Regions from separate parts of the Homo sapiens genome. Here region 2 is linked to region 1. Evidence: fine-mapped expression QTL. A gene starts in region 1. The other region holds a variant in brackets. All regions are shown on one strand. Distances are from middle to middle. Region 1 holds the start of HHEX (hematopoietically expressed homeobox). Region 2 has its middle 30 kb from the start of HHEX.

Region 1 (11,562 bases):
CAAGTTACCCAGAAGATCTAGCTAAGATCATTGATGAACGTAGCTACACTAAACTGATTCTACACGTAGACCAAAAAGCCTTCTATTGGAAGAAGATGCCATCTAGGACTTTCATAGCTAGTGAGAAGTCAATGCTGGCTTCAGAGTTTCAAAGGACAGTCTGACTCTCTTGTTAGGTGCTAATGCAGCTGACATTTAAGTTTAAAGCAATGCTTATTGGCCATTCTGAAAATCCTAGGGCCCTTAAGAACTATGCTACATCTACTCTGCCTGTGCCCTATAAATAAAATAACAAAGCCTGGATGGCAGCACATCATTTTACTGTGTGGTTTACTGAACACTTTAAGCCTACTGTTGAGATCTACTGCCCAGGAAAAAAATATGCCTTTCAAATTATTACTGATCATTGACAATGCACCTGGTCACCCAAGAGCTATGATGGAGATATACAAAGAGATGAATGTTGTTTTCATGCTTGCTAACACAACATCCATTCTGCAGCCCATGAATCAAAGAGTGATTTTGATTTTCAAATCTTATTATTTAAGAAATATATTTTGTAAGGCTATAGCTGCCATAGATAGTGATTCCTCTGTGGGCAAAGTCAAGTAAAACCCTTCCAGAAAGGATTCACCATTCCAGAGGCCATGATTCATGGGAGGAGGTAAAAATATCATTAACAGAAGTTTGGAAGAAGTTGATTCCAGCCCTCACAGATGACTTTGAGGGGTTCAAGATTTCAGTGGAGAAAGTAATTGCATATGTGCTGGAAACAGCAAGAGAAATAGAAGTGGAGCCTGAAGATGTGACTGAATTGCTGCAATCTCATGATACAACTTGAATGGATGAGGAGTTACTTCTTATGGATGAGCAAAGAAAGTGGTTTTTTGAGATGGAATCTACTTCTGGTGAATATGCTGTGAACATTATTGAAATGACAACAAAGGATTTAGAATATTACATAGCTGGATGTAATGGCTCATGCCTGTAATCCCAACATTTAGGGAGGCAGAGGCAGGAGCATAGCTTGAGCCCGGTAGATCGAGACATGCCTGGGCAATGAATGGAGCGAGACTCCATTCTCTACAAAAAGGAAAAAAGAAAAAAAAAAAAGGACAAAAAAGAGAGACTATTACACAACCATACTTGATAGAGCAGCACAGGGTTTGAGAAAATGAACTCCAATTTTGAAAGTTCTACTGTGGATAAAAATGCTATCAAACATCACCACATGCTACAGAGAAATCTTTTATGAACGGAGGGGTCAACAGATGTGGCAAACTTCATGGTTGTCTTTAAGGAATTGCCACAGCCACCCCAACCTTCTGTGCCTCCCACCCTGATCAGTTAGCACTCATCCACATCAAGGCAACACCCCTCAAAAGCAAAAAGATTATGACTTGCTGAAGGCTCAGATGATTGTCAGCAATTTTTTTTTTTTGAGATGGAGTCTCACTCTATTGCCCAGGCTGGTAGTGTAGTGGCATGATCTCAGCTCACTGCAACCTCTGCCTCCCGGGTTCAAGCACTTTCCAGCTAATTTTTGTATTTTTAGTAGATACAGGGTTTTACCATATTGGCAGGCCGGTCTTCAACTCATGACCTCAAGTGATCCGCCAGCCTTGGCCTCCCAAAGTGCTAGGATTACAGGCATGAGCTACCACTCCCTGCCAATCGTTAGCAATTTTTTAGTAACAAAGTATTTTTAAATTAAGGTATGTACGTTGCTTTTTAAGACATAATGCCATTGCACACTGAATGTAGTAAAGTGTAAAGATAACCTCCTTTACATGCACTGGGAAACCAAATAATTCATGTGACTTGCTTTATTGCTATGTTTATTTATTGAAGTGGTCTAGAACTGAACCTGTGATATATCCCTCTTTATATATACATATATGAACATATACATAGATATGTGTGTATAAATATACATGTAGATGTGTATGCACATATATGTATATACTGAAGTATTTAAAAGTAAGCTGCACATATGACCCATCACTCCTAAAGACTTTAGCTTGCAACTCCCAAGATCGCATTTTCCAAAGTAACCTGCAATACCAATCACATCTAAAAGATTAATAATGTCAACTAACATATACTTCATAGTTTGTCCCCATTATCCCCCCCCCCAATAAAAAGCAATGTCTTTTATAGTTTTTTTTTTTTTTTTTTTTTTGAGACAGAGTCTGGCTCTGTCACCCAGGCTAGAGTGCAGTGGGGCGATCTCGGCTCACTGCAAGCTCCGCCTCCCGGGTTCACGCCATTCTCCTGCCTCAGCCTCCTGAGTAGCTGAGACTACAGGCGCCCACCACCACGCCTGGCTAATTTTTTGTATTTTTAGTAGAGACGGGGTTTCACCGTGTTAGCCAGGATGGTCTCGATCTCCTGACCTCGTGATCCGTCCGCCTCTGCCTCCGAAAGTGCTGGGATTACAGGCGTAAGCCACCGCGCCCGGCTCCTTTATAGTTTTTTAAAATCCAGAATCCAGTTAATTGGGATGATATGAGGCCTTGTGAAAATCCTCATCCTCAACATTTCACGTGTTAGTTGATGATGATTCTTCTTGAATTATTACGTTTTTCGATTGTACCAATTTTTCTACATCTGTTAGCTGACATTCTTCCAGCTTTCACATCCACTGCACCTTTCTCTCTCTGAGTACCACTATGGACTCACGAATTGTTATATTCAAAGTGGTATAATCCCTAATGTATTTTTAAAGCTTAAATCACCCCAAATTTTGCCGATGGAAACCACTCCAAGGTGGTCCCTATTTTCTTTTCACGGTTTCTGACACAAGATGTCTTTGAGCTTACCTTGTACTTTTCTTGCCCTAGATCTAGAATCAGCCACTTCTTCAAGGACTTACTTATACGACGAATAGGTCATACATCCATCTAGTGCAAGTCTCCAGATATTCACAGCTATACATGCCCCCTCCAATCCCACCCCTTTCTTCATAGTCAGCCAATGTTCGTTATCCTTCCAGAGATAGTTTATATCATGGAGTAATATAAAAATTTATGATTTATATGTACTGTATAATAGAGCAATTATATTCTTACCTACCCCCAACATGCTTTAACTCGAATGATAGTGTAGTACACTTCTGAGTTTGTCTGGGCTTGTAGCTCTTGTCTGTCATTAGATTCTGAAAGATACCTATTAACAATACCCTAAAAAGATCAGGAGCCTTTAGGCCAAGTCTCAAACGTTTCAGATGAGAAAAACTCAGGGATGGTGACTTGACGGAAGTTGCATTAACTAACAACGCTCACATGCTATTCTCCGGACTTGGAATGTCCAAGCACCCTGGGCTTGCTGACACCCACTCACTTTTCAAACATCAATTCTTGGGAAGCTTTTCCCTTCCTTAATGTCCCCCAGATAGGTGATGTCCCCTTGTTACAGGTTTTAGACCATTATGTACATCTCCTTCCTAGCACATACATATATTAAAATTTGTTTCCTGTCTCCATGAGGAGAGGGACTACATCTGTCCTTTTCACTGCTGGCACACAGTAGTTGCTCAACAAAAATGTGCGAAGTGAAACTCGAACAGGCGGTCAGGCTCACAGTCCACGCCTCTTCCTACTGTGGTCCCGCTGTGTTTGGACAAATAGTTCCAAATTATAAACTTTAAAACCTGAGAAGTCTCAATAGAAAAAGCAGGGAAGTCTTTCCATTTCCATGATTAATGGAGGACCTTAGCAGAAACGGCTCACCGCGAGGTGTGACGACCGCAGGAGGGCGTCAATCAAGAAAATGCCCCCTTGCCCCGGAGGCGAGTGGAGCCGCACAGAGCCGAGGCCATACGGGCCAGCAGTACGGACTGCTTCAATAGAAAACACGTGCAAAACCAGAGAGCCAGACTGCGCACAGCTGCGACCCTCAAGAGCCAGCAGAAAAGACACGGAGCGGCCCCCACTGGATTGAAGACTGCACAGCCTCTGCCCGGCGCTGTAGGACCCGGGCCTCCCCTTGATTGCTGCTCGCAGCGGCTTCTGCCAGCATCCTCGCGGAAGTGGCTTGAGTCCGAGGCCTCCAAATGAAACCAGGTGGAGCGGCCAAGAGTCCGCAGCACCTGAACTCCAGCCATCCGAATCCCGCCGGGCCGCAGCTAAGGGCCGCCGAGCAGCCCTAGGAACCCAGGGCACTGTCCCGCTCTGAGCTCGGGAAACGGCCGGTGTGACAGCCAGCGCCACTGTTAATCCAGGGAGCGCACCCACCGAGGAGGCGTCTTAGGCCAGCGGCCTCTGCTCCCGCCGAGTCCCGCTGCTCCCCGCCTGGAAACAGCTGCTGCCACCCCGGGCCCAGGCCTGGACGGCGCCCCCGAATTTCGGCAGAGGTGCCTCGGGGCCGCGGACAGGGCCGCTGGAGCCCGCACTCCAGAAGGCGGTCTTCCTCGCGCCTCCCCCGACGGACGCGGCCCAGGGCTTCCCTCGAGGGCGTCCTCGGCCGGGGTGCCTGGAGTCCCCAGGGGCGACAGCCGCGGCGGGGCACCAGGGCGCCAGTTCCCCGGAGCCTGGTAGCAAGCGCGTCCCGGGGGCGGGGAGCTTGGCCGGCGGGGCGGGCCGGGGTGGGGGCGGGCGGCTGCTCTTGGGGCCCCGCGCCATTGGCCGCAGGGCCCGGCGGCAGGAAGGGGCCAGCGAGCGCGGCCCCACCCCGCGGCCGGCGGAGCCTATCGCCGGGAGCGCGGAGCGCGGATAAATGTAGCGCCGCGGCGCGGGCCAGCAGCTCTGCGAGGGGCCGGAGCGCGGCGGAGCCATGCAGTACCCGCACCCCGGGCCGGCGGCGGGCGCCGTGGGGGTGCCGCTGTACGCGCCCACGCCGCTGCTGCAACCCGCACACCCGACGCCCTTTTACATCGAGGACATCCTGGGCCGCGGGCCCGCCGCGCCCACGCCCGCCCCCACGCTGCCGTCCCCCAACTCCTCCTTCACCAGCCTCGTGTCCCCCTACCGGACCCCGGTGTACGAGCCCACGCCGATCCATCCAGCCTTCTCGCACCACTCCGCCGCCGCGCTGGCCGCTGCCTACGGACCCGGCGGCTTCGGGGGCCCTCTGTACCCCTTCCCGCGGACGGTGAACGACTACACGCACGCCCTGCTCCGCCACGACCCCCTGGGTAAGGCGGCCGGGCGAGGGTGGGGGCGAGGAAGCGCCACCCGGCAGGTGGCAGCGCCCGGGAGGCCGAGGGGGCGAAGGGGGCAGGCGGTAGACGGCTGTGGCAAAAGCGATGGAAAAGCAGCTGTCGGGCACGCGCGGGGACGGGAGGCGCGCGGCCGGGGCTGACCGCACCGTGACTCAGATTGGTTTTCCTGCACCTTGCAGGCGTCGGGGCGCGCGGGCCGGCGGTAGACCTCGCGGCGAGGGCAGCCGTGGACCGCGCGTGTTACCCGGGGTGGGGCTCCCTTAGCGGGAGGGACGGGGAAAGGGGCGTCGAGGCGCCCCTGGCCGGCCCCCGTGGGGCAGGGATCGCAGCCGGGCCCGGGTGGCTACGGGGCTGGACCTGGTTCAACAGGCTTGTGCAGTGAAAGAGCCTGACCCTTTCCGTTCATACAGGAAATCTTGAGTTCTCGATAGGAGTAAATCTGGTTTCAGAAGCTGTTAAGTGTTTTCCTGGCTGCATGAAGCAGACCCTTCCCCCGGAGTAGTGCACGCTGCTGATTATTTTATCGACATCCTCAATACAGACAAATTCAGGAAACACTCGACTTCTGATAGCCGGGATCCGTTTTTCTGATATTGTTCATTTCCTCTGTGTGGGATGTGACTTTATGGCAGCTAAAATAACCAGTTGCTTCCTATTTTTTTTCGAGGCTGTTTTGCACCAGTCTGAAGCCTGACGCAAGCAAAATCTCGAAAAAACAATGCTAGCTTTCAAAGCGTTGAGGTGCAGGCCTGCAGACGGACGGACGGACCGACCGACACTACTTTGGGAGTAGGAAGCAGCAGCTCCTGGTCGCCAGTTAGGAAGGGAAGCAGGGACACATAGGGCATATATTCCAGAACTTCGGGGCTTGTCCCCTCAATGTGCGGCCTAACAAATAAGCCGCCCGTGGTCCGCGCTGTGGGTGACCCTTGGCGCCTTCGAGGTCTGGAGCCCTAGGGTAAATAAGGAAACGGGGCGCCTCTAGAGTTTTAAATGAACTCTGTTATTGGAAGCTTCAGTAGGGACCCTGAAAACAATTAACGTCTTAATTAGCATTTTAATGTCTCCATTATTACGGCGCGGGCTCTAGCTCAGCCCTTTACCTTACCTTCTCACCGTTAACAGGGGAGGGGGATTGTATTTTTAGTTCATCTTTTTATGTTTTTGAGTTGTTATCCTGTCTGTCTGATTCCAGCCTCGAGGGTTTGATGATGCGGCCCGAGCCTGGCTGTGGTCGCCTGTCGGGGCTGGAGCGGGACCCTCAGCCGGGCCGGGCCTGGGGGCTAACGTTTTCACAGTGCGCCCTGAGTTTCCTTGGGTTACTGCTGGGACCGCGCAGGAGGAAGCAAAGAGTTTTTCGAGCTAGACCAACAGGAAACACATTGACGGAAATGTTGCCATAGCCCATGGGGTGGCTTTAACTGGCCGCCCCCGCGGGCTGGGTGTGAAATCAGAGGAGGCCGCGGCTCCCCCGGCCAGGATTGGAGGCTCCTCGCGCAACCTAATGCGGGTGTCCGGGCCCGAGCGCTTCCCGCGCAGCCAGGCCTTGTCGGTGCAGCAGCCCCGCTCCTCCCCAACACGCACACACCCGGTGTTCGCAAGTGCGGCTCACCAAGGGAGATCCAAGGGGGCAAAAAGTTATGTATAAATCCGAGAGCCACTGGGGAAAGAGGGTCGTGGTATTGTAAGCCCAGCCGGTAGTGCCCATTCTTTTTGGGGTTAAAGGTATGTCTGGATTTAGTTCTAGGTGTGACGGCTGTGTGTCTGTCTGTGTGTGTACAAGGCTGTGTGCATCTGCGGTGTCAGTGTGTGACTTTGGGTATGTTTGTGTGTCGGTGGGAACGTGTTAGGTCCACGTGCCGGTGGGTGTATGTGAATGTGTCTGGTTGGGTGGCCTCCTGGCCTACCTTTGTCATCCCTGGGGCCCGACAGCTCTGGGGTCTGGCCAGGCCGCTCCAGGGCAGTGGGTGAGCGCCGCTCTTCCCGCTCGCAGGCAAACCTCTACTCTGGAGCCCCTTCTTGCAGAGGCCTCTGCATAAAAGGAAAGGCGGCCAGGTGAGATTCTCCAACGACCAGACCATCGAGCTGGAGAAGAAATTCGAGACGCAGAAATATCTCTCTCCGCCCGAGAGGAAGCGTCTGGCCAAGATGCTGCAGCTCAGCGAGAGACAGGTGAGCTCGCGGGGGGCCTGGGGCCGCCTCCGGGGAAGGGAAGGCTTCTGGGGTAGGGGTCGCCGGGCCACCGAGAGAGAGGCGAGGAGCCACCCTGCCCTCTGGCACGTCCCGACGCGGGCTCGTTGCAAGTTTTCTTTCTCTCTTTCCTGTAGGTCAAAACCTGGTTTCAGAATCGACGCGCTAAATGGAGGAGACTAAAACAGGTATGGACATGGTTCTGTTTCTATGGAAATAAATATTTTTATCACGTTATCTCAGTGCAAGGCTGTTATGGGTTGTATGCAAAAGTCATTTAAGAGACTATTTAACCTCTTCACCTTGATTAAAAAGACAAATAGTCCTGCTGAAATTCAGGATGAGTTGCTCAGGTGGCAGTAATGCTAAAAGCACCTAATGGGGTTCCTATATCAATTATGCTTGGGTTTTCACACACTGGCTAGTAAAACTCCCAGCTAATTGTTTTATAAATCCCATATGTTGTTTATCTAATTAACGCAGGAAAGATAAAGTAATTGACAGTAAATGACTTAAGCAGTTATCTTTGGGAGAAAATTGTTTCTTTTATTTACACAGCCATAATAAAACCAGGCAGAACTCAAGGGTAAATATAAAGAAACAAACACCTTTAAGTCTTGTTTGCACTGTTTTTTAGAAGAATTAAATGTCAGGGAGTTTAAAAATTATTTTCTATCTAATGCCAGCTCTTAAAATGAAATATAAAACTTGTAAGAAAATATTCAAGCCTGTTTGGAAAGTAGCTTAAACTTTCTGACAGTCTTTCTTCCAGTGACCTTGTTTCGCAATATGTGATAAAAAGTAAAGGCTAATTTAGTTTTTAAAAGAAGGTCTATTGACTTAAAGCTAAACATTCATTTTTGATGTCCTAATCTGGATATACTCTCCAAAGTTATCTGATAATTGCTGAATTGTTCACTTGTCATTGTATATACGGTTTATAATAAATACTTTGAAACAATGAGTGGAGAAATTTAAAGCAAAGTGGATTTTAAAATTTATTGATCATTACTTTTTCATTAAAAAGAAAGTGTCCCAAAGAATATTTTGAAATAGAAAATAAAATTCCCATAACTTCATTACTGTAATGTGATTTAAATATTTGCAGATCCACTCTCAATTTCTGACCGTGTGCATCTATTTGTTGAGACTATAAGGCTTGCAACTATATAACAAATAGATGTTGTAATATTTCTATGTAGTATTTATATGCATTTTAGACAAGTATAGGATTAAAAATTCACTAGCTTATATACTTAATAGTTCTTGGTCAAAGGCTTGACTCTAGTTTACCAGAGACCTTAAAAATAGTGGTTTCTATGTAATATGGGGATATTTCCCAGAAATTTGCCCCAGATTTTAAGTAAATTGTAGCTAATTGTCTACCTTCTCAGTTGGCAGCATTCTTCCAGATCCACATTTTTTTTCTTTGCCATGATTTTGTAACTTGTTAAACATTTACACATGTAGATGTTTATAAATTTACTCCAGAAAATGAATGAAAAAAGATCCAGTCTAATAATTGAAACTTTATTCTTAATTCACCAGTTAGCATTCTTATTTTTAAAATGTCTGAAAGACTGTTAATTGGCAAGGTTTAAATATTTAAAGAATGAAGTTAAGGTGTATCTGTAGTGATCTGATTTTCTTTCCCCCTTAAACTTTTGAGAATATTGAAACCATGGGTCTGGGCTGGTGTTAAGTAACCAGAATTTGTGTTCAATTGGTATAATGTATCTGCCCTTATGTTCATGACTGGTTCTCATCTTTTAAGCATATAATCTTTGATATGACAGAAACTTTTCTTCCAAAGTGAGCAAAAAGCACAAGTATGTATCTCCTGAATAAGATTATAAACTGAAAACACTCAGTAAACTAAAAATTAAAAGATGGAATAGGATGAAGAGACATTTTGATTTATTCCTCTCACCTATCCATATTTTATGATCCTTCCAATCTCCATTTTCATTTCCTTTATTCAGGAGAACCCTCAAAGCAATAAAAAAGAAGAACTGGAAAGTTTGGACAGTTCCTGTGATCAGAGGCAAGATTTGCCCAGTGAACAGAATAAAGGTGCTTCTTTGGATAGCTCTCAATGTTCGCCCTCCCCTGCCTCCCAGGAAGACCTTGAATCAGAGATTTCAGAGGATTCTGATCAGGAAGTGGACATTGAGGGCGATAAAAGCTATTTTAATGCTGGATGATGACCACTGGCATTGGCATGTTCAGAAAACTGGATTTAGGAATAATGTTTTGCTACAGAAAATCTTCATAGAAGAACTGGAAGGCTATATAAGAAAGGGAATCAATTCTCTGGTATTCTGGAAACCTAAAAATATTTGGTGCACTGCTCAATTAACAAACCTACATGGAGACCTTAATTTTGACTTAACAAATAGTTTATGTACTGCTCTTAGGTTGTTTTGATAAAGTGACATTATAGTGATTAAATTCTTCCCCCTTTAAAAAAACAGTTAGTGGTTTTCACTATTTATAAAAAATTAATTTTGAACTTTTTGTTAAATTTTTAAGTTATAGCTTTAAAGGTTTTAATAGGACCTTCTTGAACGACTTTTCTGTAATCTGTTTATCTCCCACTTAATGGAAAGGCAAAGGGGTACCCCAAATCCAGAGGTGCCTACATTTCAGGCAGCCTTGGAGTATTTTAAAAGGAAAACATTCTTTACTTTTATATGACATTCTTATACTGCTGTCTCAAATCCAAAAACATTTCAGAGCTCTTGTCTCAGAGATGTGTGTTCTTTTTGTCAGAGATATGGTTGATGAGAATCTTAAATGCTTGTTTTGCACTATCACTTAGTACCTGTTTGACCAAGGTGTTAAGGGGATAGTACCTCCCAATTCAAGCAGAGAAACTGACCTGACTAAAGTTAATCGCAGATGAACTAGAAGTCACAGGTTAATTAAATGTAAGTAGATTGTAGATACTGTTTTATATCAAACAATGTTTATAATGTGTATATAGAATTGTTCACTGTAAAAAAAATGGCCAAAATGTGTTTTTTTTTTAATAAGTAACTTGACTATAAAATAAAGCCGTCCGTGGGACGACTGACCTCGTTGCAAGTCTAATTCTTTGATTTTAAAAAGTCTGCACACCTTTTCTTGACCTCCTGGGTGCTTGGCGCGGTGCTGGGCTCTGGGGACAGGAAGTGACTGGGGCTGGATCTTGCTGGGGCTCTCGTTCCGAGTCCCAGGACCGCGGGTGGGTGCCTGGAACGTGGGTTGGGGCCTCTCCCGGGCCGTTTGCCTTGGGGCTCTGCTCCTGCCGGCGGATTCTGAGCCTGATGGGTTCGAGTCCCGGGCACGCCAGGCGACGGGAAGAGCCGAGGCCCAGGCCCGCTGCGCCGTGAAGCGCGGGGCCGTCCGGACCCCATCGATTCTCCTCGGCAGCCGGGCTGGCCCTCGCCGTCCTTGACCGGCTGAGTCAACACCGCGTCATCCCTCGGCGGCCGGGGCTCGGGAACCCGCTCCGCGCGGCGGGGCCCGGGGTGGGGAAGTCCGAGTGGGGGGATGGGGGGCCCTGGCCGAGGGGAGCGGGGAGGTGGTTTGCGCTGAGAACTGTTCTCGAACCCGGGGAACTTCAGAACCTCCTTCAGGGCTTGTGGAAACCCAGCCCTGTTCCTGGAGTTCTGATCTGTTAGGACTGGACTGGGCTGGGACCGGGAATTTGTATTTCCAACAAGAGCTGAGGTGACGCCAAAGCTGCGGGCCCGGACACCACCCCTGGGGAACCACTGATGTGAGCGCACGGGGTGCGGAAGAAGCAGGTGGGACCGGCACTCCTCCTCCCACCTGCTTTCCCGGGTAACTTTGGCCAGCAAGAGGCTGGGGCGGAGGGCTGAGAGGAGGGAAAGGCGAGGGGGAACAGAGGAACGAGGGGCTTATCCAGGCTAGTGGGAGTGAGGTTTGATGGCTGAGCAGAGGGCGCAGGGTGGAGGAAGGGGCACCATGAAATGGAGGGAGAATGGGGTGCTGAGGTTAGGTGGGTGTGGGGGCCCAGGTTTCTGATTGTTCAGGGTATTGCTAGTCTGTGCCAGCTGCTTGCCTAGCTGAGCCATCAGGTCTCTGACATTCCAGGAAAACCATGACAGAGATCTGTTGGGGAGAGGCCTGGAAATCTCTCTCTAGCCTTGGCCTCCATGGAGGAGGCCTCTAGTTGTAGAGTTGGGTACTTCTGGCTAAGGACC
Region 2 (11,562 bases), 29 kb after region 1:
GCATCTCTGCTCTCAGCAGAGAGGGTAGCTCTTCTCTGCAGCTAGTCTTGCCATTGTCTCTCCATCCTCTGCCCTCTTCTTGCTGATCCCAGGGCTCAGAGGGGAGGAAGTATGTGTTGATTGGTCCATGGGCAGCCATAGGTGACCTGGAGGAGGCACAAGTCCCCACTCCAGTCTGCGGGACTGGCAGCCCAGCCCCCAGCCTTCAGGCCCTCTCTGGCCTGAAGGTGTGGCCTTACTGGAACCTGCTCCCTTCCCTCCAGGAATCTGTCTGCCTTCTGCTGCCATTCATGACCCCGGGGCTCAGCCCCAACCCTGCTTGGAGATTGGAGCAGGCACTGGGAGAGGAGAGGCCAGGCAATGGGAGCAGACAACCCCAGGCCTGCAGGTATGTTTGGGGAGGGGCCTTCTTGGGCCCCCGCGGGTGCAGGCTGCAGAGATGCCTGGGTCCTGTGCCTGGGAGGGCAGCTGCAGCTGCACTCTGGGAGCTACCACCCCTCCAACTTGGAAGCCTCTTCCTCTGCTTGTCCCTGGCTCCTGCCTGCTCTGTGGAGCAGGAGGCCCAGGTCTACAGCTGCAGGTCCAGGGGCTGCAGTTGCACCCAGGAGGGCAGATCCTGCCTGCTCCTGGCCACCCTCAAGAGTGAGGGGAGGCTTGCGTCCACAGCTGCAGTTTGGGTGCCCGTATCCCCACCCAGGGGGGCAGGGCCCCTGCCTGCTCAGTAGAGCAGGAGGCCTGGGTCTGTGGCCATGGTCAGCTGCCGTCATTGGGATGACAGTCATGAGCCACTAGCCTGACCCTTCCTTCCTCTTCTCACCTTCTGGTAGCTCCTGCAAACTTTGGAATTCCTTGGTTTGTAACTGTGTTACTCAATCTCTGCCTTTATCTGCACATGGCCTTCTCTCCTGTGTCTTTCTGTGTTTTTCCCTTTTTTTTTTTTTTTTTTTGAGACCGAGTCTTGCTCTGTCGCCCAGGTTGGAGTGCAGTGGCTCAGTCTCGGCTCACTGCAAGCTCCGCCTCCCGGGTTCACGCCATTCTCCTGCCTCAGCCTCTGAGTAGCTGGGACTACAGGTGCCTGCCACTGCGCCTGGCTAATTTTTTGTATTTTTAGTAGAGACGGGGTTTCACCGTGGTCTTGATCTCCTGACTTGGTGATTTGCCTGCCTCGGCCTCCCAAAGTGCTGGGATTACAGGCGTGAGCGACCGGTTTTTTCCTTTAAGGACACTAGTCATTAGGTTTAGAGCCCACCCTTATCAAGTATGATCTTACTTTAACTAATTATATCTGCAAAGACTCTATTTTCAAGTAAGGTCACATTTTTAGGTTCAGGATGGACATGAATTTTGGGGGGAACACTTATTCAGCCCACCCTGGTGGCTGTACCATGTCGCATTCCCTCTAGCAATGCCTGAGAGTTATAGTTGTTCCCAATCCTCACAACTTCAGGCTTAGCAACTTTAGGAGATAGAATAGTTTCATGAGAAGTCTCAGGACTGTCTCTCATTGGGCTGCCTTGGCATACATGCGTGTTCATCCTTGAACTTATCGCTACAGCCCAGACATGGAACATGATGGTTGGCCAGGATGTGGTCATATCCCTACTCCTAAAGGTAGGGATGGGGAGGGGTCAGTGCCACATGAATCACGTAAATTGATTGTGGATAAGGGGCTTCCTGGAAGAAAACTAGGGAGATGTTAACAGAAGAAGAGGAACTGAAAGATTGTCAGGTAAAAACAACTAATTTCCTCTACAAATAGGAAAGTGCCTTTTGCAACCGCTCCTTATCAGTTTCCAACAACTGCTGGAATCAAAGCAATTGATTGTTTTCTATGTGCCAGGCACTATGCCACGTGTTTTACATGGCTCCAAGTTCCCCAGCATTCCTCTGGGGAAGATTCCATTACTCTCACCTTTTTTTTTTCTTTTTTTTTTTTGAGGTGGAGTCTCGCTCTGTCACCCAGGCTGGAGTGCAGTGGCATGATTTCTGCTCACCGCAACCTCCACCTCCCAGGTTCAAGCGATTCTCCTGCCTCAGCCTCCTGAGCAGCTGGTATTACAGGCGTCTGCCATCATGCCCAGCTAACTTTTGTATTTTTAGTAGAGACAGGGTTTCACCATGTTGGCCAGGCTGGTCTTGAACGCCTGACTTGAAGTGACCGCCGACCTCGGCCTCCCAAAGTGCTGGGATTACAGGCATGATCCAACGTGGCCGGCTCACCCTTTTTACATGTAGGAAACTAAGACTTGGAGACTTTGGATAACATTGCAAAAGTCATGTAGCTATTAGGGGGTGACCCTGGATCCTGGGCCAGGTCTGCTAACATCAGTGCCCACTATACTGTCCTTGTATTTCTCCCCAGTCTCCCAACCAGCCAGTCTGTCCCTGTCTACCTTGATTTGACCCTTTCATTGACATGCATAATTTCTTGGAGTGGTAACTTTTTTTTTTTTTTTTTTTTTTTAACATTTCAGGGCTTCTCCTAGGGATAACCTCTGCTTCCTGCTGAGTTCTGGATCTAGAGCACAGGCAGGTTTCCTCCCCTTTCTCCTGTAGCTACTGAACTCTGACTTTGTAGTGGTGGAGTGTCTGGGGCCCAAGAGAGATTTCTGTCCTTCACCTGGCAATAGTAGACCGCTAATTTATATCAGAGTGTGTTTCTTGCCCCTCCCCCAGGGGCAGACAGGCACTACCTTGTCCTCAGACAAGGCTCAAAGCATGAATGGGCTTCCCTAGGTATGCCTGCTCCACCCTAAAACCTTGGCAGGTGCTGTAGGGCTGTACCACCAAGGGGGAAGGGTCTCCCAGGCCTACTGTGCTGTTTCCAGTCTTTCTCATGCATGCCGAGTAGAGGCCAGTGGAAAAGGATGGCAAGCAGATGGGGATTTCTCTGTGTCCAGCGTGCTCAGGGCTTCTAAACTGCCATGCTAGCTTATCCTTTGCCGGTAAGAATTTGTTTTCTTCTTATCCAGTTTTCTGATGATTGTCTGTTCTTCCCATTCTCTGCCAAAAGAGGAAACAGCTGGTGTGTCTTGTCCCTTTTTGGAAGGACTTGTGAGCCTTAGGAATTCAGTTCCCTTGATTGCTTTGTATAACAGCGCAATTCGCTGATGGACTAAAACAAAATTATGGTTTTGTATGTCTTATAGGTTATCCATTTTTTAATGTATTTATTTGACACATTGCGGGGTTTTTTTTTGTTTTGTTTTTGAGACAGAGTCTCACTCACTCTGTTACCCAGGCTGGTGCACAGTGGCACAATCTTGGCTCACTGCAACCAACCTCTGCCTCCCGGGTTCAAGCGATTCTCCTTCCTCAGCCTCCCGAGTAGCTGTGATTATAGGTGCCCGCCACTATGCCCAGATAATTTTTGTATTTTTAGTAGAGATGGGGTTTTGCCATGTTGGCCATGCTGGTCTCGAGCTCCCTCCTGACCTTAGGTGATCTGCCCGCTTTGGCCTCTCAAAGTGCTGGGATTACAGGCGTGAGCCACCGCGCCCGGCTGGTTATCCATTTTTCTCTTGTGTATGCCAGCCTCACAGAGTGTGGGATATGAGAAAGAAAGGATCCTAGGGTCGAATAAACTTGAGAAATTTGTCATGTCTTATCCTCTTCTGGATATTTACATGGCACATTCATATCTTAAAGACCCTGAGAATTCCTGCAAAATAGAGAAATACATATATATTGAGATGGAGTCTTGCTCTTGTTGCCCAGGCTGGAGTGCAATGGCACAATCTCGGCTCACTGCAACCTCCGCCTCCCAGGTTCAAGCAATTCTCCTGCCTCAGCCTGTCAAGTAGCTGAGATTACAGGCGTGCACCACCACACCTGGCTAATTTTGTAGTTTTAGTAGAGACGGGGTTTCACCATGTTGGTCAGGGTTGTCTCAAACTCCTGACCTTAGGCAATCCACCAGCCTCGGCCACCCAAAGTGTTGAGATTGCAGGCATGAGCCACCACACTTGGCCTTGAGAAATAAATTTAACTTTGTTTAACAAAGTGTCCCTAAAGTTTGTTTGATCATAGAACCCTTTGCTTGTGTAGCACTCATTATTTCCCTTAGAATTAATATTCTGTGAACACCGTTCGGAAAATAGAGGCTGGATGTTGATGTTTTATTGTCTGGGAACCTGGAACCAAAATAGAAAGCCAGGATCCGTAAAGATAGTAACAGAATTGTTGTGGGTATTTCTAGAACCAAAAGCCATCCTGGAGATTGGGTGGAGGTTCTGGGTGATACCGAGGCACTCAGCAACGGCCTTGGTCAGTAGTCCGTGTTTCATCTTGTATGCTATAACTTCAGAGATGGCCGGGTGTGGTCACTCACTCCTGTAATCCCAGTGCTTTGGGAGGCCGAGGCGGGTGGATCACTTGTGGTCAGGAGTTTGAGACCAGCCTGACCAACATAGCAAAACCTCGTCTCTACTAAAAATCCAAAAATTAGCTGGGCGTGGTGGCAGGCACCTGTAATCCCAGCTACTTGGGAGGCTGAGGCAGGAGAATTGCTTGAACCCGGGAGGCAGAAGTTGCAGTGAGCAGAGATTGCACCACTGCACTCCAGCCTGGACAACAGAGTGAGATTCTATCTCAAAACACAAACAAAAACAAAAACAACAAAAGACTTCAGAAAGGATACCTGGATGAATGAGACACAAAGTCAAAATAAAATGTCTGGAAGTCTCTAGATCATTCCATGGACTCTCCTTTCTGACACACCCATCTCACTCTCTGAAACCAATAAGAAATCTCTTCCTGGCCCCTGTGTTTATATGGCTTGCTCCGATGGCTGGTGCTCACCAACCCTGCTGTGGTTGGGGCAGACCCTGAATATGGAGCTGCTATGATATAGTAGGGCTGGATGCCAACCTGTTTTGTGGATCTTCATCCTAGTTGTAAATGATTTCTCAGCCTCAAATTAAAACTCCTTGGCTTCTGGGCCCTGGTCTACCCCAGGGATTTGAGAGTGGGCATTTGGTCTCTCTGCTCTGTGCCCCTCAGTTCCATCACCATCCCTTGAAGTAGCCTAGACACCTGTTGTTTTCAGCTCCTTGCACCCTTTTTATTTTTGCTCATGGGACACCACCTCTCTCCTCCATCCCATATTCAGGTGGGTCTGCCCGTCCATAATTGCTGGTAGGGACCAAAGCTGGGGTTCAAACCCAAAGGGTCTGATTCCAAAACCCACTTTCATAAAAATTACTCTAGCTTGCTTCTTGGTACCAAATTACATTGCTTTTCATTGCATTTAATTTTTAATACTCTAGATCGTGAAATACACTACAGAGTTTCTCTCCAGTCATTTGGATAACCACATGTCAGACAATATCTGAGTCAAGGTTTAAAATTACAGAAAATAAACCAAAGTTCTCATCTCACAACAGGGAAAAGTATCATCTTACTAGTTTTAATGGTGGCAAAAAATTAAGGTTCTGTTTGAAAAATTATTTTTTCTCTAAGATCCTTAGTCCTTTTTATTCCTCAACTACATCAGCTAAAATGTGGCCATGTATGATGATTATGGAAGTGAAGAGCTTTTTCTGAAGGATACTAACCTAATTACTCTGGAAATATCAACCATGAATCAAGAAGTATATTATGACTTAATTGTTCATTGCACAAAATTTAGATAATCACTCATTTCTTCCATGCCTTCCCTCTCTCCATCTAGAAGCGTATTTAACTAAGTAATCAGGGGTACTAACTATTCACAGCCTAGGCAAGTGTAGGGAAATAACCACCTTAATAACACATTGGCAGCCTCAGAAATGGCTGGCTATGAATAAGCACATAGCACTTAGTCTGCTCCTTCTTATGTGTTTGCCAATACATTTGCAATTTCATGCACAGTTTTAAATGTTAAGCATTAATCTGAAATGGGCACTGAAGCATCAGTAAAGTCTACAATTTGCCCCCTTTAATGAAAATGCTAGATATAGATTTAATGCAAAACTAAACATTTGGCTCAATATGTTCTACTCCAGTAAATTAGCTAGTGTTTGTCATCTTTTTAAAAAAACAGGGGCTGAATGCCTCATTTCACATGGTTTTGTTAGGGACAGATAGAAAGCTGATAAACAACCCATTTGTTCTATGACAGTAGCTCCTCGTCACACTACTGAAGTTAAGCTTCAGTGCTCATTTCCTTTACAAATCCTGTTGTGAGTTTAAGTGGCCTGCTGTTGAATATTTGACTGAAGTGTAGCCTTGACAAGAGTGTTTTCCCAGAGGAATACAGACGAAGCTTTTTTGGACAGTGGCCCTAGAGCAGTGGATTCTGAAATGACTCAGTGAACCTGAAAGGGAACAGAGCATCAGGGAGCCCTACTGTGCGCTATTTGAAA[C/T]TGTCAGAGATGTTATCCCACAACAGCCTGAACAGGTTCATGTAATTGCCCTCTACTTGGCCAGATGAGGAAACCGAGGGCTAGAGATGAAGCTGTGTAGCTAGGAAGTGATGAAACCTGGATTTGACCCCACTCACTATTTCACACTGTCTGGCAGCTGGGAGCTGCCCTTCCTATATCTCTACCAGTGGTGCATTATTTGTCATTCAAGGAGCTTACACATGCCACCTCCTCCAGGAAGTCATTGCTGATTGCTCACTATTAACCATCCTTCTTATGTGTTTTTATTGTACTTTATCTGTTTCCAATGTAGTCCTTAGGACATTCTGCCTTTTGGTACATTAATTTAATACCTATCTGACTCTTTATAAGAGAAAGGGCTATCTCTTACATTGACCTTGTATATACTGCAGGACTTTCACTATCAAAGGCACTCGATAAATGTTCATTGAGGCTGGGCATGGTGGCTCACACTCCTAATCCCAGTACTTACAGTGGCCAAGGTGGAAGGATCACTTGAGGCCAGGAGTTTGAGACCAGCCTGTGAAACATAGCAAGATCTCATCTCTGCAAAAAAAAATTTTTTTTGAGACAGAGTCTCTCTGTGGCCAGGCTGGAGTGCAGTGGTGCAATCTCAGCTCACCGCAACCTCTGCCTCCCAGGTTCAAGTGATTCTCCTGCCTCAGCCTCCCAAGTAGCTGAGACTACAAGCTCGTGCCACCACGCCCGGCTAATTTTTCTATTTTTAGTAGAGACAGGGTTTCACCATGTTGGCCAGGATGGTCTCGATCTCCTGACCTCGTGATCCACCCGCCTCAGCCTCTCAAAGTGCTAGGCTTACAGGCATGAGCCACTGCACCCAGCCAAAACTTTTTTTAAAAAAATTAGCCAGGCGTGGTGGGGGGCACCAGTAGTCTGAGCTACTCAGGAGGCTGAGGTGGGAGGATCGCTTGAGTCCAGGAGGTTGAGGCTGTAGTGAGCTATGATTGCACCACTGCACTCCAGCCTGGGCGACAGAGTGAGACCTGTCTCCAAAAAGAGTTAAAAAACTGTTCATTGAAATGTTTATAAAATAGGTGGTTCTCAATATCTCATATCCTATTTCCAGAATTATGAAGAACAGTACAGTCAAGGGGGCAGGTCTTGCAGTAAGCCTGACGGGGTTTGAATCCTAGCTGTATGACCTTAGGAGAGTTGCAGAGCTTCTCTGAGTTTCAGATTCCTTCCGTTATAAAGCAAGGATAGGAATAGTATCTACTGCAAAAGGTTGTTGCAGAAGTCCAATAAGAGAAGGCACACATAGTGCTTAGAATAGTGCCTGGTACATAGAAAATGCTCACTGAACCTTGGCTATTATTTTCCAGAAATGTTTGGAGATTTTTATAGCATAGGCAAGAAACTTTGTGGCACTGGTTGTTTACCATTTTAAAACGTAAAAAAAAAGGAAATATTTGATTTGATTAATAGCTGAACTGACAACGTGCAAGAACCATTTAATAATGACCAATCATGAAAGGTTATGGAAAAAGAAATGATTTAAGAAGGCCAAGAGCCAGGCCAAGGTATTGGTAAGCCCTGAACTCATCACATGTCTGGAGTCGACAGTTCAATCAGTTCTAGTTTTGAATATGGGCAGGAGCTTTTTGTAAAAAAAAAGTTTTGGGGCAATATGCATATGGCTTTCTTTTCTTTCTTTCTCTTTTCCTGCCCCCTGGGCAATATGTGTACTGCTTTCTGAGAATGAGTTTCCAAATAATTGTGTACCTACTGATGCAGGTGTCATAATTTCCAAACCCATCCAATCAATATGTACCAGACAGAGATCTGCTCACAGTTCAGAGAGCTAATTTGGTAACTCCAGTGGGCCATTCTGTTCCTTGTTCTGGATAACCAACTAACTAACCTACTGCCTATTGAACACTATTTGACTTGGGTAAGCCCCTCAACATCCCTTTGAGCTTGAATCTTCTTACAGATAAATATGGATCAAAATATGGATACCTCTCCTTCCTTTCCCTCTTTGGACCTCAGTTTCTCATCTGTAAAATGACCAGGTGGCCTCTTAGTCCCTCCTCTGGCTAACCTTCCATGGTTCTGCCTCCCGGGGATGCTGTAAAGTCAGTTCAATGATACTGACTAAACTGCTGTGAACTTCCTGACCCAGGGCCCAGCTGGACACCAACTGACTAGGAGAGTTGATGGCTACACAGGGAAGAACTGCCTCTCCTCAGCTGCCGGACAGGGAAAGGAGGGGTGGGGCAGCTGCTGATGGCTATGTCTTCCCCTGTGTCCTGGTCACCTGGCCTCTGCTTGCATGCAACAACTCTATTTTTGAACAGGAGGTGGGTGGCAGGAGGGCCCAGAGGTCTGAATTTTCTTAAACAGCCAGGCATCCTTGGGCTGACACGGTGTCCTAGCTCTCATCAAAGGACATGATGAATATATATAAAGCGAAGCTACATGAGCAGCCCACTGTGAAGGGAGGAGAAGGGCAGGAGGTCTTGAAGCCTAGATTCTTTGGCTCCAGGTGGCTGGAAAAGTCAATAGCTCTAGACAGTTTCCCAAGCCGGCTGCGCACCAGCAGCACTTGGAAAGGTAGTTTGAAGTACAGATTTGTGGGCTGTAGCTTAGAACACTCTGATTCAGTAGGTGAATGGCCTGAGCATCTTATTTTTAGCAAACTCCCCAGGTGGTTCTCGTGCACAGCGAGGCTTGGGAATCCCTTTGGTTTAGGTCATGGGGAGATAGAAGTGATAAGAGAAGAATGGCTGGTGAAGCACATCAGCTCCACCCATGCTCCAGTGGGGTCAGTAGTATGTGGCATCCCAGCTCATTCCAGCTGTGCCATGGTTGTGTCTTAAAATCTCAAAGCCTCGATGCTTATTTCTAAAATGGGAATCATACTGACAACCCCATAGTATCAATGTGAGGGTGAAATGGATGATGCCCATAAGGCACTTAGCAGGGGGCCTGGCACAGAGTGAGCATTGAATAAATGTCAGTTATTGTCATTATTGTTGTTGTTAACATTATTATGGAGGGCCAGGTGCGGTGGTTCCCACTTGTAATCGCAGCACTTTGGGAGGTTGAGGTGCAAGAATTGCTTGAGGCCAGGAGTTCGAGACCAGCCTGGGCAACATAACAAGATCCTTTTTCTACACACACACACACACACACACACACACACACACACACACACACACACACCTACCTGAAAAAATTAGCCAGGTGTGGTGGTGCATGCCTTTAGTCCTAGCTACTCAGGGGGCTGAGGAGAGAGAATCACTTGAACTCAGGAGTTGGAGGTTGCAGTGAGCTATGATTGTGCCACTGCACTCCAGCCTGGGCAACAGGGTGAGACCTCATCTCTTAAAAAAAAAATTAAAAAGAAAAGATTTTTAAATTCTTAAGAAAAACCCAAACAAAAACCATTATTAACTAATGAAGCACTTGGCCATTCCTGGCTGTTGTTCTCTTCCTTATTGTAGGGTGGGTGTCTTAGTTTGGGCTGCTAGAACAAATATAACAGACTGGGTACTTAAACAACAAGCATTTCTTTCACACAGTTTTGGAGACTGGAAGTCCAAGGTCAAGGTACCGACAGATCCAGTGTCTGGAGCGGGCCCACTTTCTGGTTCATAGATGGCTGTCTTCTCACTGAGTGCTCACATGGCAGAGAGCAGAGAGACACAAGAAGCAACCTCTCATGTCTCTTCTTAGAAAAGCATGAATCCCATTTCTGAGGGCTCTACTCTCATGATCTAATCACCTCCCAAAGCCCCTGCCTCCTAATTCCGTCACACTGGGGGTAAAGATTTCAGCATATGAATTCTGTTCAGTCCGTAACAGTGGGATAGCCCTGGACAACATCTAAGGTCTTGTTTGCTAGATGATTTGCTCCAGAGCCCCCAAGGAACTGCACTTGTAACACATTTTACAAAGATGACTCATGAAAGTAGGGCTAAAAAATGTTAATATTATTCAATCTGGGTGATGAGTATTTAACTGGCTATTAAGATATTCCTTCAATTTCCTTGATATTTGAAATATTTCATAACAACAACAGCAACAATAAACTAAGCTAATATTCATAAATGCCAGCTGATTGGTTCATGTTAATCCCAGCTGGTGTGACCTTGATCAAAATGGGTAAGCAGGCAAAATGGCCTTCAGGACCCTCCAGCTGTGTGACTATACTCCCCTCTTTGAGACCCCTGTCAGTCCCTCCCAAGTTCTTCAGCCACCCAAGACCTCCCTTCCTCAAGGACCTGTTCTTCCAGAGCTCCTGATCTCATCTTGGAGCTAGTTTGATTGGAGGTATTAACAGTTGATGGTGGCTTAATTTCGATTTCTGCTTTTTCTCATAAACCAAGTGGCATACACGTCAGACCCCTGCCTGTGAGTGATGAGGACATTTTGATGGAGGGTGAAAGTTGTACACTACCCTCGCAAACTACTAGGTGTAAAGCTGCTCCCTTTTTGCATGGAAAGGTCAACTCCATTTCAACATTATAATGTTCAGTTTCTGTTCAGAGCAATTCAGAATGGTGCCAAAACAACTGCTCAATTCAGGCTTGTGTGTGTGTGTGTGTGTGTGTGTGTGTGTGTGTGTTTAACCTGTCAGTTTGTTGGTTGAAAAAAAAAGTGATGAGTTGCCTTTATGTAAACAAAATAGCCAGTTAATTGACTGGGATTTTCACTTTTTAACCAGTCATCATTGCAAAGACAAAGAGAACTTTTGCTAAGTTGCTTTTCACAATGTCACACAGTCAAACAAGCACACATTCAAGGTGAGATTTTCCTTTAGTTACTATCCTTCTCTGGTGTGAATACCTAACCTGATATCAAATCTTTCTCTTCTTCCTTCACAGTCCTCCAGATGTGCTTTGATTTCCTTAGTGTCTTAGTTTTCTCCTGAGGAGCCACCTCTCTCTCTTGGATACCTGCAGCGCTGCCCAAACTTCAATCATTCCCATATGGCTCTCCTGGTTTTTGCCATATCCATGTACCACCCTTCCTATCATTGAACCAGCTTTCTTTACATAAAATCACTTAGAAAATAAGTTTATTTTTGCCAGGCACGGTGGCTCACGCCTGTAATCCCAGCACTTTGGGAAGCCGAGGCCGTTGGATCACCTGAAGTCAGGAGTTTGAGACCAGACTGACCAACATGGTGAAGCCCCATCTCTATTAAAAATACAAAATTAGCCGGGCATGA

What was found. PIP is the estimated chance that this variant, and not a neighbour inherited with it, causes the effect.
Region 2: its variant is fine-mapped to the expression of HHEX in whole blood (TOPMed, PIP above 0.99).

The regions. Positions count from the first base shown.
Region 1 is chr10:92,685,214-92,696,775 of GRCh38, forward strand. HHEX (hematopoietically expressed homeobox) reads left to right here and starts at 4,742. Exons shown (of 4, transcript NM_002729.5): 1 at 4,742-5,134; 2 at 7,155-7,333; 3 at 7,489-7,539; 4 at 9,334-10,434. The coding sequence starts at 4,774. The coding sequence ends at 9,555. RefSeq lists silencers at 4,233-4,472, 4,543-4,862, 5,283-5,362, 5,373-5,522 and an enhancer at 6,053-6,860.
Region 2 is chr10:92,714,401-92,725,962 of GRCh38, forward strand. No RefSeq gene overlaps it. Among named protein-coding and RNA genes, the nearest start is that of HHEX, 30 kb to the left of the region's middle. RefSeq lists an enhancer at 5,876-6,431. The variant C/T (reference allele first, on the strand shown) is at 6,345.